2 separate regions of the Homo sapiens genome follow, and region 1 is linked to region 2. The links come from fine-mapping of genetic effects on gene expression. A gene starts in region 2. The other region holds a variant in brackets. All regions are shown on one strand. Distances are between the middles of the regions. Region 1 overlaps TPX2 (TPX2 microtubule nucleation factor). Region 2 holds the start of MYLK2 (myosin light chain kinase 2).

The links. PIP is the estimated chance that this variant, and not a neighbour inherited with it, causes the effect.
Region 1: its variant is fine-mapped to the expression of MYLK2 in gastroesophageal junction (GTEx, PIP above 0.99). The same link has a PIP of 0.9 or more in esophagus muscle, left ventricle, sigmoid colon and transverse colon.

The regions. Positions count from the first base shown.
Region 1 is chr20:31,742,846-31,757,895 of GRCh38, reverse strand. TPX2 (TPX2 microtubule nucleation factor) reads right to left here. Exons shown (of 18, transcript NM_012112.5): 3 at 314-489. The coding sequence starts at 419. Among named protein-coding and RNA genes, the nearest start is that of TPX2, 11 kb to the right of the region's middle. The variant G/C (reference allele first, on the strand shown) is at 6,554.
Region 2 is chr20:31,809,806-31,824,321 of GRCh38, reverse strand. It overlaps MYLK2 (myosin light chain kinase 2), which reads right to left and starts at 4,966. Exons shown (of 13, transcript NM_033118.4): 1 at 4,894-4,966; 2 at 4,690-4,789; 3 at 3,776-4,196; 4 at 2,585-2,883; 5 at 740-845; 6 at 1-63. The coding sequence starts at 4,741. RefSeq lists enhancers at 30-556, 557-1,084, 1,552-1,611, 3,941-4,482, 7,836-8,638 and a silencer at 1,202-1,251.

The DNA of each region.
Region 1 (15,050 bases), 67 kb after region 2:
GCTGCCATCACTACAGACATATTTGAGCATGGAGTTTTGTTGAACACTGGTTCATCTGAACTTTCCCATAGGTCCCTAAAGCTTAAATCTGCCATTCTGAACTACAAAACAACATATGCTTTGTACTTACAATCCATTCCCCAAATACTGGGCATTTCAATTATTCCCATAATATCATGGATGACAGAATGTCTTGGTGCAGAAAGAAGTTGATATTTTAGTTCTTTTCTTGCAACCCCTTCTATTATTGAAAGGTCTTCAGCACAAAGCAAGCCACTAATCCTTAAAATAGCCAGAGAAAGCAGGCACTTACCAAACCATGAATCTATGTTTTGAGTATCTCCTTCATCATCCAAGGATGAAAAATTGATGAAATCCGAGGGGGCATCATAGGAATAAGAGCTTTTAACTTGTGACATTGTCTCCCACTTAACGCAGAAGAGCAGGTTTTTCCCAGTATTTGTACCACTTTTCTCAGCAGGTCACCTTCTGAGGAAAGAAATGGTTGCACATAAATCTAAGTAAATTCCCATCATTACTTTGGTTTTACTACCACGTTTGTAATTTTGCAAACCACCTAGAATTTACTGAAAATAGCCTTACTTTGTCCAATCAACCTAAACATTAGTTTTTCAGGTAACTTAAAGATACTCCTTGAGGTAGATATGTTTGGAATTAGAAAGAAGTGGGCCAGACACAGTGGCTCACGTCTGTAATCCCAGCATTTTGGGAGGAGGGAGGACCACATGAGACCAGGAGTCCAAGTCCAGCCTACAAAACATAGACAGACCCTGTCTCTAAATAAATTAAAATTATCTCTAAGTATAACAGTTGACCCTGTCTCTAAAAAGATAAAAATTATCTGTAAGTAGTTGACCCTATCTCTAAAAAAATAAAAATTATCTTTAAGTAATCAGCAAATATAAAGAAAAACCAAAAAGAAAAAATTGAAATTAAAAATAAATTTTAGGCCAGGAGCAGTGGCTCACGCCTGTAATCCCAGCACTTCGAGAGGCTGAGGCGGGTGGATCACCTGAGGTCAGGAGTTCAAGATCAGCCCGACCAACATGGCAAAACCTCTTCTGTACTTAAAAAATACAAAAAATTAGCTGGGCATGGTGGCAGGCGCCTGTAATTCTAGCTACTCGGGAGGGTGAGGCAGGAGAATCGCTTGAACCTGGGAGGTGAAAGTTGCAGTGAGTCGAGATCGCGCCATTGCATTCCAGCCTGGGCAAGAAGAGCAAAACTCTGTCTCAAAAAAAATAATAATAAATAAAAATAAAATAAATAAATAAATTTTCTAAATGTTTTTTAAAAGAGGCAAAGTTTGATAAGTATCTACACTGTGCTAGGTGTTTTACATTCACCATGTCATTATTTTCCCTCAATTTACCATTTTCTCATTTCTAGCCTCCTCTAGCCCAATTTATTCTCTCTCTGCCCTGAATAACCCAATTTCTAAAATACACCACTAATTTTTATGCCTACCAACCAAAATCTTATCCATCATTCAAAGTCCAGGTCAAATCTCTATGAACTCTTTCCCAATTTCCACCTATCATACAAAATTGTTGCCTCTCCAAAGCCAATTGTGCTTTGTTTATATCTCCACTGTAACACTTATCATCCAATTTTATATTAACTATGTAAATGTCTCTCCCAGTAGACTCGAAGTTCCTAAAAACAAAGATAGATTTTACTCACTTGTGTATACCTCATCCATCCATCCATCCATCCAACCATCAAGGTGCTTAACACAGTGCATTATACATAGTAAGAGTTCAACACAGTTTTGTCAAATATAAGTTGTCTTTTCTTAGAAATATTCTCAAAAAATACTATTTCTGAGTATAAAGACGACAACTTTGAAATACACGTAAGAGTCACAACATGCAGCATAGGAACAGAAGCAAGGATAAGGGAACAAGTTAAATAGGCCCCTCCCTACTCCTGCGTACGAAGTTTTGCACTCTATCTTGTGGAAACCTGTGAAGGTTTAAAGTCAGCTCCTACTCAAGCCTAATCTAGTTAATAAAATAGCTGAAAGTAATCTGATAAATAGCCTAAAGGCCACACTCAGTGGCCAATAATTTGCCAATGAAACCCAATGAGCCATTTGTCTTTTTTTTTTTTTTGAGACGGAGTCTCACTCTGTCCCCCAGGCTGGAGTGCAGTGGCATGATCCCAGCTCACCACAACCTCTGCCTTCCGGGTTCAAGCAATTCTCCTGCCTCAGTCTCTAGTAGCTGGAATTACAGGCGCCCACAGCCACACCTTGCTAATTTTTTGTTTTCAGTAGAGACGGGATTTCACCATGTTGGCCAGGCTGGTCTCAAACTCCTGACCTCAAGTGATCCACCCACCTCGGCCTCCCAAGTGTGAGCCACCGCGCCCGGCCAGCCATTTGTTTTTATCCAGGGAACGACATGTACTTAAAAGTATCTGTATCTTAGAAGGGAGGTAGATGCCAGTAATCACTTGAATAAATGTTTATTTAAATTAATACCTTTCTAGTGTGGCGCAGTGGCTCATGCCTGTAATCCCAGCACTTTGAGAGGCCAGGGCGGATGGATCACCTGAGGTCAGGAGTTTGAGACCAGCCTGGCCAACATGGTGAAACCCCATCTCTACTAAAAATACAAAAAAGCGGCCGGGCACGGTGGCTCACGCCTGTAATCCCAGCACTTTGGGAGGCCAAGGCGGGTGGATCACGAGGTCAGGAGATCAAAACCATCATGGCTAAAATGGTGAAACCCTGTCTCTACTAAAAATACAAAAAATTAGCCAGGCGCAGTGGTGGGCACCTGTAATCCCAGCTACTCAGGAGGCTGAGGCATAAGAATCCCTTGAACGCAGGCAGCGGAGGTTGCAGTGAGCCAAGATCACGCCACTCTACTCCAGCCTGGGTGACAAGAGCGAGACTCCGGCTCAAAAATAAATAAATAAATAAACCTATAATGCTACACTATTCCAGATGTCTTCTCCCTCATATATATACAAACTATTATTTTTTTAAATGAATCATTGACAGTTTGAATCTGCTTCACATATTATGAATATTCTTGTATGTCAATAAATATAGACATATCAATTAATGGCTGTATCTGTTCCATAATTACTTATCCTTGATTTTCAGCCTTTTTCCAATATTTTCACTTTAAAGATACTGCTAAAGCATCATCCTTGTAGCTAAATTTCTGTACACATCCATAATTCTTCCCTTAAGATAAATCTTAAGAGGTGGAACTGCTGGGTCAAAAGCTCTTGACACATACTGTGAAAATGTCCCTCAGAAGAAAAAAACACCCACTTACATTACCAGGAGTGTGCCAGTTCCCCAAACTCTCCCCAACTCTGGGCACTGCAGCACTCATTTTCTCTAAACTATACCACATAAGCTATCCACTGAGATGAATCATGAGATTAGTTACTCCCAACCTACATAGCCGTTCAGTGGTTTGGCCAGCATTTCACAGCTTCTCTCAGTGGACTAGGGCAATTCAAAATGGACTAGGGGCTGAGAGTGGTGGCTCATGCCTGTAATCCCAGCACTTTGGGAGGACGCGGCGGGAGGATCACTTGAGGTCAGGAATTCGAGAACAGCCTGGCCAACATGGTGAAACTCCATCTCTACTGAAAATACAAAAATTAGCCTGGGGTGGTGGCTGCACCTGTAGTTCCAGCTACTCGGTGAGAATCACTTCAACCCGGGAGGCTGCAGTGAGCCAAGACCGCACCACTGCACTCCAGCCTGGGAGACAGAGCGAGACTCTGTCTCAAAAAATAAAATAAATAAAAATAATGTACTTCTGGTCCTTATAGTGTCTCAGAAACATCTGTTATTGTTGTTGTTTTTGTTTTGTTTTGTTTGAGATGGTGTCTTGCTCTGTCGCCCAGGCTGGAGTGCAGTGGCATGATCTTGGTTCACTGCAACCTCCACCTCCTGGGTTCAAGCGATTCTCTTCCCTCAGCCTCCCAAGTAGCTGGGGTTACAAGCGTGCGCCACCACGCCTGGCTAATTTTTCTATTTTTAGTAGAGATGGGGTTTCACCATGTTGGCCAGGCTGGTCTTGAACTCCTGACCTCAGGTGATCTGCCTGCCTCGGCCACCCAAAGTGCTGGGATTACAGGCATGAGCAACCGCACCCGGCCAGAAACATCTGTTATAACAAATATTTCATTTATACAGTGACATCAATCTAGACCCCAGAGAACATCATCTTCCCATGGTCTCTCCTATGCTCACTGCAGCCAGAATTCCACAAGTATCTTTATAACAATGCTCTAATTGAGGTACTTAGTGTAGAAACATGATATTTTAGAATTGGGAGGAAACTTTGATTAACACCTAACCTTTGCAGTCTATAAGATATTAACTTAAAGCAAAAAGGGGTTCTCCAAGATCACACAACAAAAATCCTAAGGATCATGGTAAAAACAGTTACCAGAGGTGTTCATTACATGCCAGGTGCCATGATATACTAAATATGTATTCTTTCTGATATGCAAAACAATCCTGTAAAGCAGCAATTATTCCCAACCTAGAAGCTGAAGATCAGAAAGATTAAATGACTTGCCCAGTATCACACAGTTACGTAAAAACAGAGCCAGATCTGGACCTGAGGCTCGTGACTTCAGCACAATGTTCTTTCTACATCCTTCTGCCCTCTTACCTTGTGAATTAAAGAAGGGTGTTCATGAAGTTAAGCTATTTGCATAGAAAAGAATACTGTATTTATTTCCAAGTAAATCCATTCTCCATAGTCTTCTGTCTGGAATAGGGGTTCTTTGGTATCCCCAGTCTAAATTTTCCTCTCTCCTCCATTTCTACTTTCATTATTAAGCTTAACTCAATAAGCTTTTTGTCAGTGGTTCACAATAGTGTGTACTTGCTAGGGGCCATAAGCTGTGTGCCCTTGAATGTTTCTCAGTAACATTCAAGGATGACACTCTATATCTTCACACAAAAAGTAGATCTAAGCGGCCAGGCTCAGTGGCTCGCACCTGTAACCTCAGCACTTTGGGAGGCCGAGACAGGTGGATCACAGGGTGAGGAGATTGAGACCATCCTGGCTAACATGGTGAAACCCCGTCTCTACTAAAAATACAAAAAGAATTAGCCAGGCATGGTGGCGGTCACCTATAGTCCTAGCTACTCAGGAGGCTAAGGCAGGAGAATGGTGTGAACCCGGGAGGCAGAGCTTGCAGTGAGCCGAGATCACGCCACCGCATCCAGCCTGGGCAACAGTGCGAGACTCCGTCTCAAAAAAAAAGAAAAAAAAGTAGATGTAGTCCTGAACACAAAGGAACTTAACATCTACATAGACGCTAAGGTCCTATCATACACAATAAATAAGACAGTTTGTTTAAATTATACAGTATGAACTCTAAGTATAGAGAATTAGAAATTAACATGGCTGAAGTCAAGGTACGATTAAATATTTTTCATTGACCATGACCAAAACAGTAGCAAGTACATTAAAATGGAAGTTACCTCCTGATAGCCACTTTCCAAGCTTGGGGTAGCCATGGGACAGTTCTGGCCAATGAGAACTAAGTAAGAATCTGCTGAGGGATTCCTAGGAAAAAATTTTCTTTCCTGAAAACAGCTATAGCCCTTATTCCTGCCCTTTCCCTTTATCCTTCTTCTTGCCTTGAAGGCAAGCTGGAGCTATGGCAGTCATCTGGTATACATGAGTAGATGGCCAAGAGAACAATAAACATAGGGCTTAACATCAATGAGCTAATGACTATTAAAGATCAAATATCAGCTACTATATACCTCTAGACTTCTGGTGTTTTTTACAATTTTCCATGACCTGCTAAAAAGACTTCTTATACTAAAAAAAAATAGGCCAGGCACGGTAGCTCACACCTGTAATCCCAACACTTTGGAAGGCCAAGGCAGGCGGATCACCTGAGGTCAGGAGTTCGAGACCAGCCTCACCAACATGGTGAAACCCTGTCTCTAATAAAAATATAAAAATTAGCCAGGTGTGGTGGCAGGTGCCTGTAATCCCAGCTACTCGGGAGGCTGAGGCAGGAGAATCACTTGAACCCAGGAGGCGAAGGTTGCAGTGAGCTGAGATTGCGCCATTGCACTCCAGCCTGGGTGACAAGAGTGAGACTTCATCTCAGAAAATAATAATAATTATTGTATAAACCATTATAGCCACATTTTCTGTCACCTGTAGTCAAAAGCAATTCCAACTAACAGAAGTCCAGAATGCCCTCTCTGGCATTTACCACATGTATATGACAATAGGCAAGTCACTAATTCTCTGCCTACCTTCTTACCATAATCAAATAAGAAGCTACTTCAAGTGCTATGAAATACACTATTGTAAGGTATTATCACTGCTGATACCTTTCCTCTCCTTGACCACATTTCTATTCAAAGGATTTTTAGTGAAAGATTCCATGGTACTGACAGTGGTTAAAAACCCCTTGCTGCAAGGAGGAAATTTTCCTTTTCTTGTGAACAAATATGCTAGAAGACATGGGAAAATCTTGGATTCCCATGATCTTAATGCCTAACTCAGGTCACTGGGAA[G/C]GCTTCCCAGGCATGAATGTAATGAAGACGACTAAAGCTGGGGGAAGGAAGAGGCAGGAATGTAACATGCAGCAACCCCACTTAGCCTCAAAACCATGATTCCACCAAAGCATGATGCTGAAAACTACCTGGAAAGTGTTCAAATTTAACCCTTCACATCCTTTTTTTCTTTCTTTTTCATCTCTGTTTTTTAAAGAATCTAGCCTGTTGCTCAGGCTAGACTCGAACTCCTGGGCCCAAAGGATCCTCCCTCCTCAACCCCTCCTAAGTAGCTGGGCATGGTGGTGTGTGCCTGTAGTCCCAGCTAATCAGGAGGCTGAGGTGGGAGGATCATTTGAGTCCAGGAGTTTGAGGCCACAGTGACCCACGATTGCACCACTGCACTCTAACGTGGGCAACAGAGTGAGACTCTGTCTCTTAAAAGACAACAACAACAACAACAACAAAATAGTTAAGCAGTATTTATTTCCCTAGATCTATGTTTGCAGCCCAAAAGAAACTGAGCTTTCTCAAATTTTTATTAAATATTCATGACAAGCAATGATTGTCTAATCTCTTGATTTAAGGAAATAATCCTTCCCATTTACGTGGCCTATAAATTGACTATTAACTTACCCAAATGTTACATATTCTCTTTCTAATATTTCTATATAGAACTACCAACCTGGCCAACATGGTGAAACCCCATCTTTCTACTAAAAATACAAAAATTAGCTGAGTTTGGTGGCACATGCCTGTAATCCCAGCTACTCGGGAGGCTGAGGCAGGAGAATCGCTTGAATGCAGGAGGCAGAGGTTGCAGTGAGCCGAGATCATGCCACTGCACTCCAGTGTGAGACTCCGTCTCATAAATAAATAAATAAATAAATAAATAAATAAATAAATAAATAGCCGGGCACGGTGGCTCACACCTGTAATCCCAGCACTTTGGGAGGCCAAGGCGGGCGGATCGCCTGAGGTCAGGAGTTCGAGACCAGCCTCAAAATGGAGAAACCCTGTCTCTACTAAAAATATAAAATTAGCCAGGTGTGGTGGTGCATGCCTGTAATCCCAGCTACTTGGGAGACTGAGGCAGGAGAATTGCTTGAACCTGGGGGGTGGAGGTTGCAGTGAGCCAAGATCGCACCATCGCACTCCAGCCGGGGCAACAAGAGCGAAACTCCGTCTCAAAAAAAAAAAAGAAATCGAGACCATCCTGGCCAACATGGTGAAACCCTGTCTCTACTAAAAACACAAAATTAGCTGGGCATCGTGGCATGCGCCTGTAGTCCCAGCTACTCGGGAGGCAGAGGCAGGAGAATAGCTTGAACCCGGGAGGAGGAGGTTCCAGTGAGCCAAGATCGTGCCACTGCACTCCAGCCTGGCAACAGAGTAAGACTCCATCTCAAAAATATAATAATAATTAATTTAAAAAATTAAAAATAAACAAATAATAAGATTTCTATATAGAACTAAAAATGATTCCTGGGGCATTGACTTAATAAAAGGGTATATAAATTTGAAAAAGTTAAAAATAAAAACAGCTATTAACTTTTTTCTTTTTTTTTGAGACAGAGTTTCACTCTTGTCGCCCAGGCTGGAATGCAGTGGCACAATCTTGGCTCACTGCAACCTCTGGCTCACGGGTTCATGTGATTCTCCTGCCTCAGCCTCCTGAGTAGCTGGGATTACAGGCACCTGCCACCATGCCCAACTAATTTTTTGTATTTTTAGTAGACGGGGTTTCACCATGTTGGCCAGGCTGGTCTTGAACTCCTGACCTCAAGTGATCCACCCGCCTCAGCCTCCCAAACTGCTGGGATTACTAGCGTAAGCCACCGTGCCCGGCCAACAGCTATTACTTAATGAGCACTTATGACATGCCAGACACTGTTGACAGTGTCTTACATGTATTAACTCACTAAATCCTCACAATAATCCTATAAAGTAGGTACTGTTATTATCTTCATTCTATACTGAGGGACTTGAGGCACAGAGAGATTTACTACTTATTCACAGTCATGCAGCTAAGAAGCAGTAAAGCCAGGATTCCAAATGGAATAGACACCGAAGGTGGTGTTCTTATCCACTGCCTATTTATTTAAAAATAGACATTTAAGCTGGGCGCGGTGGCTCACGCCTGTAATCCCAGCACTTTGGGAGGCCGAGGCGGGTGGATCATGAGGTCAAGAGATTGAGACCATCCTGGCTAACACAGTGAAACCCCGTCTCTACTAAAAATACAAAAAAATTAGCCAGGCGTGGTGGTGGATGCCTGTAGTCCCAGCTACTCGGGAGGCTGAGGCAGGAGAATGGCGTGAACCCAGGAGGCGGAGGTTGCAGTGAGCCGAGATCGCGCCACTGCACTCCAGCCTGGGCAACAAAGCAAGACTCTGTCTCAAAAAAAAAAAAAAAAATTCACATTTAAATAGATAAATAACAAATGTCATGGAGCAAGAGATAATAACTTCCAAATACTGTCTACTGTAGGCCAGGCACCTTACCAGACACTTCACATAAATCATCTCGTTTAAACTGCATTAACAATATAGACAATAGATAGATGTCTTTATAAATAAATGCTACCATCACCATTTTATAAACAAGGAAACAAGCTCAGAGAAGTTACACTATTCCAAGATCACCAAACTAATACATAGCAGTGTTGAGTTTTAAAAGAACAAGTCTGCAGGATTCCAAAATCTGGGGTCTCTCTAATGCACAAGTTTTCCTATAAACATTGCTTCAAAAAGGAGGTAGGTAATCAAATCATAAGATCCTGTTCAACAAAGACAAATCCTGCCCTTTATGAAAACTAAGCATCCCTGATATGCTCATAAAGAAAACTTTAGCAAATTACAAATCCTGTTATAAATATATTTGGAAAGCTCTGATCTGAATCTTCCCATAAATTTTTTAAAAAATCCATTGATTCCTCTTTTTTTAAGTATACTTTTCCATATGAAGTTTTTCCTCTATATAAGATGGTGGTTAGTGAAAACCTCAGTGATATTCTAGAGTAAAGAGACTATGAAGAGGGTTCAAGCAGCAGAAGAAAGGCTGTCCTCTGAGGTCTAAGACTACATTTGATTAGTGGGGAACAAACGGCGAGGGGTGCAAACCTAAGTACACTTAATCTTTAGGTGAAATTTTAAAAACAAAATATTATTTTCCTAACATGACCTGTTCTTTAAAAAAGCTTCTTTTAAGCTATATTTTGGTCTAGAATGGCCAACTCAGGAGACCATCCCCTCTCCCTGGAAAAAGAGAATAAATAAATACATATCCATTGAGAAGTCTGACTCTCTTCAATTAAGGCTGATAGGACAAGTACATCAAGAAAACGAAAAGCTAACTACTGGGTAATTTCGGTTTCACGACACTACCTCCCCCAGAAATAATAAATATGAGGATGTGAAATCTTCCAAAATTAAAGTCCACAGGGCCTAGTGGGAAATGGAACAGGCCAGAGCCAAAGGCAGCTGTTTAAATGAGAGAGCCCCAGGCATGGTGGGAACTGGATGCCTTCCTGCGTCCCTTAATCAAGATTGAATTTCTGTCAACAGGTCTCACCAAAAAAAAAAAAAAAAAAAAGGCACATGCGTCAACCACATTCCCCCAAACAAATCAAGTTGCCAAGCAAGAGAATCAGCTTCACATTTCAAAATTATCTGAATCTACCACAGCTTCAGATTCTTGCAAAACTAGAAATATTCTGCATGGAAAAATAGCTATTAATGACCAATATTCCTACAAAGACCCAAGGAAAAAGCCTATCCTGTATGCTATGAACCAATTAGGTTCCTCTAAAAACTGCCTATTCAATGCCATCCATCGTGTCTTATAGCCCATTTTTGTTTCCAAAAAGCGAAGACTAAAACGATAGATAGATAGATAGATAGACAGACAGACAGACAGACAGACAGAGATAGAGATATAAAATCTCGGCCGGGCACAGTGACTTATGCCTGTAATCCCAGTACTTTGGGAGGCCAAGGCAGGCGGATCACGAAGTCAGGAGTTCGAGATCAGCCAGGCCAACATGGTGAAACCCGTCTCTACTAAAAATACAAAAATTAGCGGGCGTGGTGGGTACGTGCCTTTAATCCCAGCTACTCGGGAGGCTGAGGCAGGAAAATAGCTTGAACCCAGGAGGTGGAGGCTGCAGTGAGCCGAGATTGCACCGCTGCACTCCAGCCTGGGACAGAGCGAGACTCCTTCTCAAACAACAACAACAAAAAAAAATCTCTTCCCTCCAAGAACGCACAATTGAATGGGGGAATGCAAACAATTACAATATAGGGCTATCCTTGCTGCAAGAGGGCATTAACAGAGAGCGCTCTGGAAGTGCAGAGAAGGAGAACAGCATAAAAGAGGATCAGAGATGGTTTCCTGATGTAAAAAATACTTAAAAGATACAGACAGACCTGCGGAGTTCTACAAGCTAAGAATGAACGTTGACTTTTTCTAGGGTAAGAGATAAATGGAAGGGGAAGACAAATACAAATTAGGAAGATTGCAGACAAAGCAATGTAACCTGTTCCCACATTCATCTGAAATTAACCTCCCATTGCCTCCCATCTTTCTTCACTCTCAAACCAAAAATAACTAGTCTTGACAAGCTCTATAAATCAAAAGGTGCAGGTTCAGACCGGGTTGGGGAAAGCTGCAAGAGGGTGCATTCTAAGCAGGGTGAAATAGGGGACTACCAGCTCCTGAGCAAAACAAAGACTTTGGTGTGACAGATGCTCTCAAACACCTTGCTATCCAGTCAGTGAGATATGACTTGCCTATTTCTATTAAAGAGAAAGTCATGAGTTAAACTGGTAATATAATAGAATAAACAGAGTAAGACAAGACTTCATTAGAAGTATAGTTAGTTAAGATGGTCCCATCCCAGGCAGTGCCATTTCTCCAGGGACATCCTCTCCTACTTTCACAAGGGATAAGAGATCCTGTTACATTACCACAAGTAAAATAGAGTGGAGTTACTTTCATCTTACCCAGAGAGAAAACACCTACATTTTTTTCTTGTATATAAGGGATTAGCAGCAGTCAGTAAATGGCAACATAATCCAGCATGCAATTTTAACTGTTAATCAAAGTCACAAACTAAGTCTGAAGGAAGTTTAATGGACTTTGTGTTTCCACATTTATGTTTGCTAACTTCTATGTTGAAATTGGATCTGTTTACAGAAACAGATCTATGAAGCTTCCAAAATTGGGTCAATTTAAAATCCAATGACAATCCCTCACTGTCCAACACTCAGAAGTCAGCACAGGACACATGGACACTTGTTCTAATTCATCACTGTCCAGAAACTTCAAGCAAATATATTTCCTATCATTTCTCTCCCAAACTTGTATGTTTCATATTGCCCTTTTTTAAGGATTACAAACTCAGTTTTGCTATAATTTATCCATAGAACTCAACAAACCATAATCCACCTATGACTAATAGGACCTAGATGGAAATCAATGATGCTGTTTACTACTAGGACAGATAATGACAGAGAGCTTTGTAAAATACTAAAAGGAAATCTTAGTAGAAACCCAAAGTAATCTGATATTCCAATAGTATGAAGCTGAAAAAGTTTGTAATGGTTGACAGTGTGGCTGCAGATTACAATCCTAGTCAAATAGCAGTCATTTCATTTTATAGAGATTTATTCCCTTCAAAAGGTATCTGGTTTGGGGAATAACACACAAACACTCAAACCCAAGAACCTAATAAAAGTGTTTATTAGATGGCTCATGCCTGTAATCCCAGCACTCTGGGAGGCCAAGGCAGGTGGATCACCTGAGGTCAGGAGTTCAAGACCAGCCTGGCCAATATGGCAAAACCCCATCTCTAATAAAAATACAAAAATTAGCCAGGTGTGGTGGCGTGCCTGTAATCCTAGCTACTCGGGAGGCTGAGGCAGGAGAATCACTTGAACCAGGGAGGCAGAGGTTGCAGTAAGCTGAGATTGTGCCACTGTATTCCAGCCTGGTTGACAGAGTGAGACTCTGTCTCCAAAAAAAAAAAAAAAAAAGTGTTTACCTATGGATGGTGAGAGTGAAGAAGTAACAAGGCTGGAGGAAGATTTTAAACCATGAAGCTTTTTATATTCTTTTGATTTTTGCACCATGCAAATATATTACCTATTTTAAGTTATACATTTATGCCTATGTGAATATATACTGTTTTAGGTAAATCAGCATAATCTTCCTACAAGGCAATTTGGTGTTACATGTCAAAAGTTTTTAAAAATATGTTTTGTTTGTTTGTTTTTTGAGATGGAGTCTCGCTGTTGCCTAGGCTGCAGTAGTGCAATGGCGCGATCTCGGCTCACTGCAACCTCCACCTCCCAGGTTCAAGTGATTCTTCCACCTCAGCCTCCCGAGTAAGTGGGATTACAGGCACCCGTCATCATGCCTGGCTAATTTGTGTATTTTTAGTAGAGACAGGGTTTCACCATGTTAGCCAGGCTGGTCTTGAACTCCTGACCTCAGGTGATCTGCCCGCCTCAGCCTCCTCAGAGTGCTGGGATTACAGGCGTGAGCCACCGCGCCCGGCCAAAAATACGCATTCTTTTAGACCAGCAATTTCACTGGTAAAAGTAATATAAAGAACCAAATAATGGAATACCATATAGCCATTAAAATTATGTTGTAGAAAAATTTGGCCAGGTACAGTGGCATGCACCTGTAGTTTCAGCAACTCGAGAGGCTAAGGCAGGAAGATCACTTGAGCCCAGGAGATGGAGGCTGCAGTGAGCTGTGATCACGCCACTGAAGTGCACACTCCAGCCTGGGTGACAGAGCAAGACCCTGTCTCAAAAAAAACAAAAAAGAAAAGAGAAGAAAATTTATTAATGACACGGGAAAATATTCATAGCCTGATTATTAAGTTAAAAAAATTAGAGGCCGGGCGTGGTGGCTCAAGCCTCAATCCCAGCACTTTGGGAGGCCGAGGTGGGCAGATCATGAGGTCAGGAGTTTGAGACCAGCCTGGCCAATATGGTGAAACCGTCTCTACTAAAAACACAAAAATAGCCGGGTGTGGTTGCGGGTGCCTGTAATCCCAGCTACTCGGGAGGCTGAGGCAGGAGAATTGCTTGAACCTGGGAGGCGGAGGTTGCATTGAGCCAGAGATCGCGCCATTGCACTCCAACCCGGGCGACAGAGTGAGACTCCGACTCAAAAAAAAAAAAAAAAAAAAGTTAAAAAAATTAACAAAAGTTTTTAGTGTATGATTTTTTTAAAAATGAAATACAGTTGGCTGTCCGTATCTATGAGTTCCATATCTGTGGATTCAATCAACTGCAGATCAAAAATATTTGGGGGAAAAAAAACTGCAAGGCCAGGCACGGTGGCTCACGCCTGTAATCCTAGCACTTTGGGAGGCAGAGGCGGGCAGATCACCTGAAGTCAGGAGTTCGAGACCAGCCTGACCAACATGGAGAAACCCCATCTCTGTTAAAAATACAAAATTAGCCAGGTGTGGCATGCCTGTAGTCCCAGCTACTCGGGAGGCTGAGACAGGAGAATCGCCTGAACCTGGGAGGCGGAGGTTACGGTAAGCTGAGATTGCACCATTGCACTCCAGCCTGGGCAACAAGAGCGAAACTCTGCCTCAAAAAAAAAAAAAAAAACTGCATCTGTACTGCATATGTACAGACTTTTTTTGAGACAGGGTCTCTTTCTGCCACCCAGGTTGGAGTGCAGTGGTGCCCTCAGCTCACCGTAACCTCAAACTCCTTGGCTTAAGTGACCCTTCACCTTGGCCCCCCAAGTAGCTGGGACTACAAGTAGGTGCCACCACGCCCGGTTAAATTTTTTTATGTTTTATTTTTTTTGTAGAGACACGGTGCCACTATGTTGCCCAGGCTGGTCGCGAACTCCTGGCCTCAAGCAATCCTCCTATTTAAGTCTCCCAAAGTGGTGGGATTACAGGCCTGAGCCACTGTACCCAGCCTAGACTTTTTTTCTTGTCATTATTCCCTAAACAATACAGTATAACAACTATTTACATAGCATTTACATTGTATTAAGTATTATAAGTAATCTAGAGATAATTTAAAGTATGTGGGAGTATGTACATAAGCTATATGCAAATACTACACATCATTTTATACCAGGGCTTGAGCATCTGAGAATTTTGTTTTGTTTGTTTTGAGACAGAGTCTTGCTGGCTGGAGTGCAGTGATGAGATCTTGGCTCACTTGCAGCCTCTGCCTCCCGGGTTCAAGGGATTCTCCTGCCTCAGTCTCCCAAGTAGCTGAGATTACAGATGCGCACCACCACACCCAGCTAATTTTTGTATTTTTAGTAGAGATGGGGTTTTGCCATGTTGGCCAGCCGGTTTCAAACTCTTGACCTCAGGTGATCCGCCTGCCTCAGCCTCCCAAAGTGCTGGGATTACAGACATAAGCCACAGTAACCGGCCGCATATGAGAATTTTGATATCCTGGGAAGGTCTTAGAACCAATTCCCCATGGATATCAAGGAATGACTATATAGACATAGAAAAAAA
Region 2 (14,516 bases):
TTGGCTGCCAGCTTGAGGCCTGTGGCTTTCTCCATGCAGGTACAGACTGCCCCAAACTTGCCACTGGAAAGAGAAGAGGCTGTAAGTGAGGGGACCCCAGAGCCCACCGGGGTCAGTGGCATCCTTTGCTCTGATCCTAACTTGGTCCCAGACCCAGTGGTGCCTCTGGATCCCCTTTGGTGAGATGGGAGCACTCACCCCAGCCAGCCCTGACTCCCTCCTGAAGCTGTGAGCTGTTCTGCCAGGACAATGGCTGAAGCAGGTTCTTTGAACCACACAGACCACGTGCACAGGAAGAGCAGGCGTGTAGGGAGGATGGCCCTGGGATGCGACCCTTAGAGGTTTAGGGCAGGCAGGCCCTGGGCCCTGGGGGAGGGCACCTTCAGGCAGAGGGAGGATCTGCAGAGGTATAAGACTGAGTCAGGGCTTTTTACAAAGCAGGAATCACCATGAGGGGGTCAGTGTGGTGCCTGGAGCTGAGACAGACAGAAAAATGCTGTGTATTTCCTACGGAAGCACTGAATGGCTGACGGTGCGTCTGAGTAAGTGACAGCAACACTGAGTGCACATCAGCATGTGACAGCTGCACACAGTGTGTGTCCCACACAGAGGTGAACATGTCCATGTGGCCATGTCTCAGCGGGGTGTGTGTCTGGGCCTTGCACAGGGGAAATGTGAAGCCACAGGAGCCCGGTGTACTCTCTGTCCATGAGTGCCCAGCTGGGGTCCCAGATCTCACCCTCCGAGCGCCTCCTTGGAGTTCATACTGAATTCACTGCTGACATTCCCGGTCCTCAGCTCCACCATGCGGTGAGGGAAGGGGGCCGGAGGTGGCGGGCAATCATCTGGGGGACAGAGCACAGCCCTCATGGTCAGTGCCAGGGGCTGCTGAGGATTCCCCTTGGCACCACCCCTCCTGCTGGCCTGGGCCCCATCTAGGGAAGTTAAGTTCACCAAGTGATACCTGGGGGACACCTGGCTCCAGGATAGGGGCTATGGGGCCCAGTTTCCAATATCAGTTCTGCCACCAACACAACACTCCTATCAGGGAGGACCAGCTTCTCCTGGCAGAACAAACGGGATGGGAGCTTGGACTTTTTGGACCCTCTGCATTATAAGACACAAGGACTCCATCCCAAGCTATCTGCATTTCCACCAAAAACAATCAAACACAGCAGCTATAAAGCGGAATGCCAGGCAGTGGGGTTGCTATGTCTGAATAATGGGGTAGGTGGTGGGACCTGCCCACCCTCCATCCTAATAACACCGCAATCTGGCCAGACCACCCATGGCGGGGCGGGACCGGGGACCGTGCTGTTTGGTGGGGAGAGGGCGCCACCTAGCGGCAAGTGTGGGGAACCGCTCGCCCTGAAGGCTGGCAGGCCGGCAGGCGGTCATCAGGAATGGAAACCTCTTTATAAATAGCAAGAGGCGGCAGGGAAGCCGGGCTGGTGATAAATCAAACGGCCTTTGGAGGTGGTTCAGATCCTGTCACTCTAGGATGCGATTTCGGGGCGGGGCGGAGGTCTCTGCGGCTGCTAGGGGCGGAGGCAGGGCTCCTGGCTGCCGCCCAGCCGCCAGGTCCTCCCACCCTGTCTGGGTGGCACGGTGCCGCTCACCAGGCAGGCTGGCGGGTCTCCCAGGGCACTTCAGCCTGGAGGCAGGGGGGTGTCAGGACACTCTGGGTTCTCCTGACCCCATCTCACCCCACCCCCAGCCCTGCCGCACCCCTGCCCAGGCCCTTTCCCTATTCACCTGCTGGCCAAGCTCACTCACACTCAGTGCTCTCTGCAGCCCATGAACAAGCCACGGGCTGCTTGTCTAATCATCAATGAAGGCCACTCCACAGTCCTGCCCCATTGCACATGCCCAGCTTCCTTGGTCACTGCTCCCACACACAGGCACCTGTGCTCCTCAGCGCATGAGCCCTCTATAGCTCCCACGACCCCACCCCACTATACAGTTTAGCTACTAAGCCTGGCATTTGAGCCCTTCTACAGATTGACTCCAAATTCCATTGCCCAGGGAGTTTGTGTTGCTCCAATAATCTGCCTGATTTTTCTTTTTTTTAACTTCATTTTAGTCAAAGTAGAAAAAACTCAAAAGTGGGTTCTGGAGTCTGGGTGGCCTGACAGGTTCAAATCCTGTCTTCACTGGATATGTTTGGGCACTTCATTTTCCTTTTTCTGAGCCTTCCTTTCCCCATCTATCAAAAGGGAATACTAAATTTAAAAATAAAAATACATCTTAAAAAATAAGATTGAAGAAAGCCAGGTATGGTTGTACACGCCTGTAGTCCCAGCTACTCGGGAGGCCAAGGTGGGAGGATCACTTGAGGCTGGGAGTTTGAAGCCAGCCTGGGCAACGTAGCAAGACCCTATCTTTTAAAACAAATAAACAAATGAATAAACATACGTTAAAAAAGGAATACTTTCTGGAGTTGTGTGACCCTTAGATGAATGGGCCTGGGTAAGGCTTGGCTCAGGGCAGTTCAGACCTCCGAATAGGTAGACTTGGGACTGACAGCCCCCTTCCCTCCCCCTGGCCCCAGGGCAGCCCCAGCCCCCACCTGCCCCTGGCCTACCCAAAATCTGGAAGCAGTCCTCCTCCCTGGCTGTGAGACAGAGGGCCTGCCCCACCTCGGATTTCTCTGAGGGAACAGCCTGGAACTCAATCCCCCTCGAGGTGTCCCCTTGCATCTTAGCCTGGCCAGCCTGGCCTGGGGTTTTCTCTCCCACTTCCTTCTGGCTCTCTGCCAGGATGTTCTTTCCTTCTTCTGCCTTGGCTGGCCTGGGATCCGTGGGGCTGTGGGTCATGGGCACCCCTTCAAAGGTGAGCTCTGATGCCTCGCTTGGGGGCTTCTTGGCCAGCAGCTTCTCAGAACTAGAAGGTGAGAACACAGAGGTGAAGCCCTCAGCGGCCACAGCCTGTGGCATCAGGCAAGTCTCAATGCAATCTGCAGAGCTAATCCAACCCCACCCCAAATGCATGGTGTAATACAGCCAAATTCACCTGGTACAAAATTAAGGGATGTTCATGGCTGTGGTCATTATCTTGACTACCAACACACTAATACATCATTAATAACTATTAATAGGATTGTTGATATGGTTAATCATCATGTGGATACAACTAGGGAGTTATGTAGCTCTTGATTCATAAAATCTGTTGTGATATAATTGATACATAATTATCAAAGTGATATGGTAAATGTTCTTATTGTGGCTTACAATATATCATTAATGACCTCATTAGCATTCAGGTAAGTATAACTGATGGCATCACACATGTGCTATATTATGGTTATGAAAATATTATCAATGATCCTCCAATCTGGTTATTAGTCATCTTTTCATATCTTACCAATAATTATATTAAGAAGAACAGGAAAATACTGGATGTCCTAGGAAATACACAGCCTTTTGCCTGACACCTTTAGCCTTTCTGCCTGCCATCTCAACCCTGCCCTTGGCTAGACCCAAGCCCATGGAGTAAGGGGAACTTCGGACCCCAGAAGCCTAGAGAAGATATGTTCAACCTAGGCAGTCTTTGAGGGTCTCTCTTACTCCAGTCTTGTATGAATTGTGGCAGGGTTCTGGTTTCTGCAGGGGACAAGGCGGTAGAGGCAATTCACAGGACAGAGGAAACTGAATGTCAGAACTACACTCCCCAGCACTGAATGTGATGATAACCATGCCTAAGACAAGGGAATTAAGCAGGACCCCTAGGGACAGAACCACAGGACCCCTCCCCACTCCCAGGAGGGGATATTCACCTGGAGATGATGGCAGGACAGCTGGGGCTATGCAGAAAGGCAGGTGAGCCCCTCCTGGCTGCTGCTTGGCCCTCTGCTGCCTTCTTGCCCACCCTGGGCTTTCCAGGATCCTGGCTGCCTGAGGCTCCCTGCTCAGCCTTGGGCTTCTTGACGCTGGTCTCAGGTGTCGCAGTCTGCTGGGGCAGGGCTGCCGGGGGCCCAGCACTGCCCTCCGCGGGCCCCCCGCCCCTGTCACCCTCTCCTTTGGGGCCTTGGCTGCTAGTTGAGGGTTGGGCCAGGGTACCATCCCCTTTCTCTGAGGCAGGGGCTTTGGCATCTTTCTTCAGGGTGGGTGGATCCGGAGCTTTCTTTGGGTCTGGGGGGCCAGGGTCTTTCCCTGCAGCCAGGGGTCTTTCACCTGTGGGACCTTTAGGTGCCTTGTCTGCAGAGGAGGTGAGACACCCATCAGGATCCACCCTCCTTTCCTTCCCTCTCACCCAGGCTGGGCAGAGACCAGCTCTGGGCCCAGGTTCCCACCCAGGCAACAACTTGCAAATGCTTGTCCCACTGAGTCTCTGGGGCCACTTGATGGCCCCTAGAGATGAGCTGCCACGACCTTGGAGGGCCTCTGTGGGAGGCTTCCAGCCCTTTGGGTGGGCCTTGGTGGCCCCCATCATCCTTGCCCTGACTGTTTAGGTGCATCCCCAGCAGCCATCCCTGGTGGCTTCACATTTTCCTGGTCTCTCCAGGAAGGGCTTCATACAGGCCCTGGACCCAGCCCAACCCTAGCCAGAGATTCCTCTGATTTCTGGGTCCCCCGTGCACCATGCAAACAAGGCTGGGGCACAGAACTCCCACTGAGGAACCTGCCCAGTCCTGGATTCAAAACCCCCCTTCCCAAGCTCCTCCCTCCATCTCCTGCCCCAGCTTGGCACCTGTTGATGGGTTCTGAATTCCCAGCTCAACTGCTCCATTTTCTGTCGCCATGAGGTAGGGAGGCGTGTGCTGCTGCTTGTCTAACTCAAGTCTTTCTAGCTGCAGAAACAAGAGTGGAGTGTGTCAGGCTGTCCAATTTCCCCTCTCGTCTGGCTGCAGTGAGACAGGAAGCCGAGGCCTGCTAACTGAGGGGAGAGAGGTACCTGGAGCAAAGAGGGGCAACCTGGTTGCCGTCTGTCTCCCAGCGGCTGCTCAGGAGCAGTCCTGGGCAGTTGTAAGGGATTGGGCCGGGTGGGCAGAGGCGGAGGCAGGGGTGTGGGCAGTGGAGGCGGGGACGGAGGAGAGGATCTCTTACACCAGGGGCCATGCAGCTGGGACTGCCGCCACCTGTCACTCTTGGCCCCAGTTCAGAGGACACGGCATTCTTCCCATGGCCCGACTGGGGGGAGAATGATGTTGGAACAAGCGAGAAAAGGGAGGGGTATCTGGGACGCTGGGGGAGCAGCCCTTTCCCCAGGCCTTGCTCAGTATCCCTGACTTGGACAGGATCAGAGGGGGCCTGGAAGAAGGGGAGTACTCAGGCAGGCCTGAAGGGCAAGAGTATGCCCAGGCTGAGCCCTGGTCTGCCCACCTGTGTGCCACATCTCCTGGGGCTCCCCAGAACCTGGCTAGAGCCACAAAGTCCCAGGGATAATCTCCCTGACCCTAGTGCCTAGCTCTGTGCCTCGACATCTGGACCTGCTTGCGTCACCTTTGGGTAAGAAATTGTCTCGGGGGCACTTTCTCAACATGTCCATAGGCCTGGAAGCTTTTTCTTTTGAAACTGTCCTTTTCTTGGGCTCCTGGGGACACGGAGGCTGCCCTGAGTAGCCATGGGAGATGGAGAGTGCTCTGTGCCCCTCCCCCAAGCTCATCCAGTTCTCACCCATGACCCACATGGAAGAAGGGGGCTGGCAGAGAGTCTTTTCAAGGATGCTCCACTACAGGGGTGGCCCGAGGGGCACTCTAGCCTGAGGTGTTCGAGATAGGATGAGGACAGCTATGATCCAAGGAGCCTTCCATCACCCAGAGCCTTTCTCAGAGGGGGCTCTTGAGAACTGGCCAGACCTGGGTGCATTAGAAGTAGCTGTAGAGGCCAGAAGCAGTGGTTCACACCTGTAATCCCAACACTTTGGGAAGCTGAGGCAGGAGGATCACTCGAGGCCAGGAGTTGGAGACTGGCCTGGGCAACATAACAAGACCCCGTCTTTATATTTTAAAAAGTAAGATAAAATGAAGTAGCTGTAGAGTGGTTATCCAGGTTCAGGTCCTGACTGCAGCAAACCAGTCACTTCACTCCATGGCCTCGGCTCCTCTGTCAAATGGGAAGCCATTGGAAAAACGCTTGATGAGAGAAAGGAGGGAGAATGCAGCCCCTCTAAGCAGTGGGGAAATAGGAACCTGTAAAAAAAGATTGAGGAAGCTGTTAATGAACTGACAAAAAGTGACCACCAAAGTGGGGGGAATAAAAAAAGCAAGATGCAAAGTAGCATGTAGAGTGTGCTATCCATTTGTGCAAAAAAAAAAGGGAGAATAATATATGAATAATATATATTTCACTTTATGCACATAAGAATTTATTTGGTAGGATAAGCAAGGAACTGGGCCCCAAGGGTGGGAAGGAGACATCACTGTATATACTTTGACTTTTCTGTTTGAACCATGAACTATGTGAACAGGCTACTATTCAAAATGAGTGGGATGTTTTGTTTTGTGAGCAAATGTCAAGGGTTTTTGGTATAAGCTGGTAAAAACCATAGTTGGAGCTCTTTCCCCAGTCTTGACTACTTTTGCTCTGCCTGGCCCTCCTCTCCAGGCCCGGTCCTCCTCTCCTCCATTTCTCTTCTTTAAGGTCCAGTTAACAGTCTGCCTCTTCCAGGAAGCAAAAGTAACAGCTGATGCCTATACGGTACTGACCACGTGCCTGGCCTCGCTCTGCATGCTCTCATGTTGATCCACCCAAATGGTCTTCAGAAGAACCCAGTGCGGTAGGTACTAGAGAGATGGGGAAACCAAGGCATGGAGAGGTTATGTAATTTACTCAAAGTCACAGCTTGGAAGGGGCTGAACTGAGCTCTGAACCCAGGTCCCCTGCAGAAAGGGAGCTTCCACTTGCTGAGCACCTGTCATTCGTTTTAGCCATCTTGCCTTTAAGCATCATCTTGATGATAACTCTGTGGGGAGCGCTCATCTCATTTTCTGCATGAGGACGAGGAGAGTTAAAGGAATCAGTAGCTTGCCCAAAGTCACTCAGCAAGGAAGGGAGTTGAGCTTGGAATGTCGTTCTTCAAACTCCAAAGCCCTCTTCCCTTCCTAAAATGTCCCAGCCTGTGCCTTGCCCCCTTCTCCCTGCTGAGTAACCCCTTTGTGGATCTTGCAGCATTCAAAAGGTTGAAATGTTTCCTGTCCTAATGCGGATCATTAGGACCTCCTGGCCCTCTATCTGGCCCAGAGCATGTTTTAGTTTAATTTGGAATGTTGGGTCCCCTGCTTCTGGCCTCCCCACAGTGCCCCAGCTGATCCCACCATTGGTTGACACTGTCTGGGAGCCCCCTGAAGGCCAGGGGCTAAACACATCCCCAGCACAGAGTGGACTTGCCCATCAGTGTCTGATGAGTAAATAACTGATTAACCAGAAGGCTCCAGACTGGAGTTTGTTACCTCCCTATGCTGGACCTTGCTGGCATCTCCTTGTTATTATTGTGGTTATCAATACCAGTCATTTATTGAGTGCCCACCAACGGCCAGGCCAGACTATGCCAAAGATCCAGCTCCCTGGATCCTCAGAAGGGACTGTAGGGGCCAATGTTACACCATTTTAAAGGTGTGGAAACTGATGCTCACAGAGGGAAGTGGCTTGTCCCCACAGTCACTCAGCTAGTGAATGGCTTCAAACTACCCACATTCAAATCCAGAGCCACCTCCCAATGAGACCAAAATCCAGCCTGGGACAACTTCAGGGGCATTAGTGCTACTTTTGTTATAATTATTATTCCCAAATAATTACTCTTATTGAACTCTTTCTAAAATGGACCAGGCCCTGGGGTAAGCAGCTTCATGAGTATCCTTCCTTCGAGTCTTACAACTCCCTACCATGCAGTGATTAGGAGATCTGTCAATGAAGCGCTGCGACCAGTAACTGTGAGCTTGGAACAATGTCTTCACCTGTTTCCTCATCCGTAAGGAGAGCATCTGCCTCCCAGGAGGTAGATAAAGCATTACAACAGTGAGTGTGAGCATAGCGAGTGCTGTATAAATGTCAGCTCTTTAATCCCCATTTCACAGATGTGACAGGAAAACTGAGTCACAGGGCAAAGTCATAGAGTTGGGATTGGACCCATCTAACCCAAGGCTCTGCTCATAACTGCTCTGCCCCATTGCCTCCCTCTCACAGCATGGCTGCGAGCATTTAGCCAGCACACATGTAAAGAGTGCCCAATGGCACAGTACCTACAGCACTGTGGGGGCCTGATAATGTCGTGGACACCCCAGGTAGAGGGTTCATCTGTTCCCGCCAGCTCCCCTGCAGTGCCTCCCACTGGGATGAGAGTCTGGCCTGGTTCCGAATCTACGGGACTGCCTGCTCCAGCCAGCTGCTCCCTGGGAGTCCCCAAGCTTCTCAGCACTCCCTTGGAGGCACAGGGGTGGGGCACGGGGAAACTTCCTCCACCCACCTAGGGGCTGCCAGAGCCCCTGCCCACCCTCAAGAAGGGGCTTCCCCGCCCTGCACCAGCTGTGCAGACACCCTCTTTGCCTCTACAGGGGCAGGACAGGAAGTGGGGCAATGCCAAGACCAATTAAACCCGCCAGGGGAATTAAGGTCAGCAGGATGCAATTATGCCTGTTGGATTTAACAAGGCCAGAGGGAAGGTTTCTCCAGCCAGAGTTCACGGCTCCTTAGGCCTCTTGCCCTGTGTAGCTCTGCCTTCCAGGAGCCTAGGCTTCCAGGCTCACCTAGCTCTGGAAGAATGTGTTGGGGGTGAAGGGGTTAACTTCACCCAGGCACTGCTTCCTTGGCTCTGGAGAGGAAATCAGTTCAGCCAAGAGGCTTTAAAAGGACCTGTTCGGAGAAGTCATGCCCAGTCTGACCCTCTCCCTGCCCAGCTGTGATGGAAAATCCAAAGAGTTGAGCAACAACCTTTCTGACTCCAAAGAGAGCAGCCAACTCCCCTCACAGCCTTCCCTCTGCTCCTGTTTGAGAGCCACTCAAGGCTGCATTAGCACGTTGTTTTCTCTCGCCCTCTCCCACCTTGGACCCCTGAGCCCAGGGCCTTGGCAGGACCTCTCAGGCCTCTGGAAAAGCCCTAGGTAAGGTTGCTGTCCTTACAGCAGACCCTGTCCTTCCAGCCAAGCTAGTAAGCAGAGGTCTGTGGGCGTTCTGTGTGCAAATTGGACATAGGTTTCTCCGAAAACGCAATTGACACACTGTTCCATCCCACAGTTATAGAATTTTATTGCTAAGATTAATTACTGGGGGCTCTACTGTGACAAGGACTAAACTGGTCACTTTCAGGACACAGAGATGAAATTGGGGGAGAGCTATAGAATCACTGCATATTACATTTTAGGTGAAAAAAGACTATAAAAATCAACCATGCCTGTAATCCTAGCATGTTAAGAGGCCGAGGCTGGAGGATCACTTGAGCCCAGGAGTTCACGACCAGCCTGCGCAACATGGTGAGACCCCATCTCTGCAAAAAAATTTAAAAATTCGCCAGGCGTGGCAGTGCACACCTGTGGTCCCAAGCTACTCAGGAGGCTGAGGTAGAAGGATTGCTTGACACCAGGAGGTTGAGGCTGCAGTGAGCCATGATTGTGTCACTGCACTATGGCCTGGGTGACAGGGTGGGCCCCTGTCTCAATAAATAAATTAAATAAAAATCAGCCATAGAGCGGGATCCTTTTTGTTCAAAATATTTACAAAGAAGATGGCTGGAGGGATATAAATGGACATATTTACAGGCGTAGAAATAGAGATTATTTTTATTCTTTATTCATCTAGATTTTCCAACTTTTTTGGAAATGACTTGTAACTCTTAATCAGATCAATAAGTAATTCCAAATATATCAACGTGGACACAGATTTCTTCAGAGAGAAAATGGTAAGAGCTATAAAACACCATGAAAGGACTTCTTGGCTCAGGGCCTCAGAGAACTCGCAATTCAGCTACTGCAAGGCTTTCTCAGTAACTAAGCCCCAGAGTTGGTTTAAAATGAAGCCTCCTGGCTGGGCGAAGTGGCTCATGCCTGTAATCTCAGCACTTTCGGAGGACAAGGCAGGCGGATCACTTGAGATCAGGAGTTCAAGCCCAGCCTGGCCAACATGATGAAACACCATCTCTACTAAAAATATAAAAATTAGCCGGGCATGGTGGTGAGCACCTGTAATCCCAGCTACTCGGGAGGCTGAGGCATGAAAATCACTTGAACCCAGGAAGCAGAGGTTGCAGTGAGCCAAGCTTATGCCACTGCACTCCAGCCTGGGCAATAGAGCAAGACTAAGTCTCAAAAATAAAAATAAAATAAAAAATAAAATGGAGCTTCCTTGGAATGAGGCCCCAGAAATGTCTATAAACCAGCATTTCAGGTGATTTTTCATGCACATCCAAGTTCAAGAACCACCAAGTCAGAGAGCCAGCTCTCTAGAAAGCATCCTGAGAGCCTTGGAAGAGGGAACAGATTTGAGGCACTGTCCTGACAGTCACCCTGGTGCAGTCAGTGGAGAGCTTCCAGGATTCATATCCCTATAACCCAGGGCCACACTTCTCAACCCTGATGCACACTGAAAACACCTGGAGAGTTTCTACAACTCTTGAAGTCTGAGCCCCTCCTCAGCTCAGACCAATTAAGAACATTTGGAGTGGGGCCCAGAATGTTGGTATTTTTAAAAATCTCTCCAAAAGATTCTGATGTGTGGCAGGGTGAAGAGCCACTGATCTAAGGCTTTCCTAGGACAGGAACTTCATTTTCTTTTTTGTATGTTTCTTTTTTTTTTTTTTTTTTTGAGCCGGAGTCTTGCTCTTTTACCCAGGCTGGAGTACAGTCGTGCAATCTCTGCTCACTGCAACCTCCACCTCCTGGGTTCAAGTGATTCTTCTGCCTCAGCCTCCTGAGTAGCTGGGATTACAGTTGTACACTACCATGCTCAGCTAATTTTTTGCATTTTTAGTAGAAACAGGGTTTCACCATTTTGGCCAGGCTGCTCTCAAACTCCTGACCTCAAGCAATCCACCCACCTTGGCCTCCCTATAATCCCAAAGTGCTAGGATTATAGGCGTGAGCCACTGCGCCCAGCCAGAAACTTCAATTTCTGTTTCCCTTGAATGCCCTCCAACATAAGGTAGGAAAAATAGTACACACAGCAGGTATTCTTTCTGACGGTGTTGACTGGGTACCCCATCCCAATATCTGAGACCCTTGGAGTCCAGATGCCAGTGCAAAACAGATGCAGACTACATCACATTCAATTTCATATCCCAAGTACCTAGTACAATACGTGGTGCTGTTGTGGTTAGTAGTAATAGCCACTAACGTTCATTGTGTATTTACAATGTGTCAGACAGAGATATTAACTCTTTTAATCTTCAGAGCAACCTTATGAGGTAGATACTATAATCACTCCCATTTCCAAAAGGAAACTGAGGCACAGAGGAGTTTCAGAGGTAGTAAATGGCGGGCTGGAATTTAAATCCAAACTCTCTTGCTCCAGAGCCCTCACATTTAATTACTACTCCGTACCACAAAGCAATGCCCATTGAAAAATAAATTCATAAGTGAGTGAAGAATCAGTTTGGTTGCCCTAGGGCCTGACATTCAGTAGGTGCTCTGTAAATGTGGAAGAATAAATGCACCTACTTGGTAGGACCCTGGAACAATGGGAAACCAAGAGCAGCCCCTCCTTCATTCCTCCTCTCCCATTCCAGCCCAACTTCTGCAGCATAAACAGCAAAGCCAAAAATAGCGATCTAATGACGTCAGACGAACAAGGTCATCTGAAAATTGCCCACAGCCACTGGACACCTCCCTATAGGATCAAGTAGCAGGAGGGTACCCCAGGCTGGTGCAGCTGTTCCAAGAACAGGAAACGTCCCGGGAGCAGACTTGGAAGCACCATCACATAAAGGCAGAAGCAGTAGGGGGAAACCACAGACATACCAAACAGTAGAAGCAAGACCAAGTGTGGAGTATAGACCTAGAAGATAAGAGTAATTCGACTTTATCTGCACTAGAAGTCACTCCCATCACCCGATCCCAGGAAATGGCTCGAGGAGCAGAGAATGCATGTTCTGTCCTCTTACACAGGACAGCTTCCCAGCCTGCCATTGCGCTATTTATAAAACTTCAGGTCCGTTTGCTAAACTGGGCTACCATAAGAACCAGGGGGTGCATGGCAAGCTCTGAGCAGCTGCTGGGGGAAGAAGACCCTGCCTGAGATGGTGAGGGGCCTCCAAATAAAGGATGAGGGGTGGGCTAGGCAAGGCACCTCCTGGCTGCAATCCACTTGGCACGGTGACCACCTTGGCTATCATTCAGGCCTGCTGAGGCTTGTGACTTAACTGACTGGCAGCTGCCACATCCCTGACGGGATCCAGCATGGTCCGAGATGCCCGCTGTGCTGACAGGGTGAAAGCAAGGAGAGGACCTGCCTCCCAGTGTCTGAGAAGCTTAGCTGGAGGTTCCCACAGCAAGGTCAAGAGTTCAGTGAGGGCTCCAGCTCAAATCCAGAAAAAGCCAGGCCCTATCCTCCTGGAGCTGGCTCTGGTCAAGGGATGCAAGTTGCTGCGGTAGAAAGGACACTGGAGGGCAGATGGACGTGGGTCCAAATTCTGACTCTGCCATTTATTAGCAGCATGACTTTGGATGAGTAACTTAAACTCTGAGCCTCGGTTTCCTCATCTGTCATATGACTTGTTGGAAGAACATATGGAAAAGCATTCTTCCCTCCGTCTTCATTCTGGGAATGGAGTCTTGGCTAAGGAGATAAAACATCCACTCAACAAGCTCAGCAGCTCTCCCGTGTCTAACTCAGTCAGACTGTACAAAGGTGACCCCTCAAGGGGCTGTGGAAGGGAGGAAGATGTTCTCACCCTGAGACAGGCTCTTGACTGGCTGGGCACTAAGGTCACAGGAGAGTGGCTGCTGGCTCCTTGGCCCATGGGTACCTGCATTAGGAGACCTGTTGTCTGTCAGGATTTGCAGGTCCCTCTCCTGGCACAGTGGTCCTCACACTTAGGCACGCATCACTGTCCCCTGGAGTGCTTGTTAAAATATACGTTGCTGGGCCCCACCCTCAGCGTGCCTGACTCAGTAGGTCTAGTGTGGGAATAAAGAATTTGCATTTCTAGTCCCTGATGATGCTGTTGCTGCTGGGCCACAGACCACACTCTGAGGACCACTGTCTTAGAGAATAAAAGTCCCACAGGCCAAGATGCTTAGGCCTCTGAGTAGCTCACAAGAGTAGCGTTGTGGTGTATGTGGGGAAACACAGAACACTGAGACCCAGTCATCAGTACAGCAAATGTTCCAAGGAGAGAGAGATGCACAAAAAGTGAAGCTCTGGCCTGGCGCGGTGGCTCACGCCTGTAATCCCAGCACTTTGGGAGCTTGAGACCAACCTGGCCGACATGGTGAAACCCTGTCTCTACTAAAAATACAAAAAAAATTAGCCGGGCCTGGTGGCAGGCACCTGTAATCCCAGCTACCCGGGAAGCTGAGGCAGGAGAATTGCTTGAACCCAAGAGATGGAGGGTGCAGTGAGCCGAGATGACACCACTGCACTCCAGCCTGGGCGACAGAGCGAGACTCTATCTCAAAAAAAAAAAAAAGTGAAGTGGTTTCATGAAGGGGAGGCGCACTGGCAACCCCTCCCAGCTCCTGAGTGACTGTGTGCTCTGTGTTGCTTCCCCCATTCGTTTTCTATTGCTGCAGTAACAAACTACCAAGAGAGAAAAAGCCTCTCTTGCTTGAACAAACTCCCATGAACCTCCTCCCCTGCAGAGATGTCTCCCTGCTTCTTTTGGCCAGCTGTTAACTAGAAGCTGCTGACCCTATCCTGTCAGGTTGTTAGCTGTGGGAAAATAGCAAAGGCCTCTGGCAATCCTTGGTGACACAGCCACTGACAACACTGAATATGTGACTCAAGCACGGCCACTCTGAGTCACACTGGCTAGCTGGGTGGGTAACAGTCACCATTGCTGCCCACAGTGCCTTTGGGGCATGGTAAGGCGGGAGAGAAATTCCCCTCCACTGTGCTAGAGGAAGGGTCCTTTCTAGCAAGATCATTCTAACTTCTATGAGGAGACTGAGACCCAGAGAATATAAACAACATGTTCAAAGTCACAAAGCGAGAGCAGCTCTCCCAGTTCCCAATCTAGGGTTTATTCCATGAAATAATTCTGTATTTCTCTTGAACCCTGTGCCAGTTATCCAAAAATAACCCAGGTCTCCTTGTCCATGAACACGTAAAAACTGAATCGCAACGGAGAGAAACAGAAAAAGAACAAGGTAAAGTCCATTTTATGGTGACATCCTTAAACTGCCTCCAACAATAGAAGGATTACTTCCAAAATAATCTCAATCTTGGGGGGGAAATCATATCTTGGATGGGAAGGACTTCTTTGTGGCAGTCTGCAAGAATTCACTGAACATTCTATGCAGTCTTTAACCAGTTCCAAGGTCAAGAAAAACATCAGAAAATATGTGTGCGTGTCAAGGGGACAGAATTATTCAGGGATTAGTCCCCTGGAGTGATCTGGGCTAGATTTCCGTTTCCAGAACAACCCTTGGA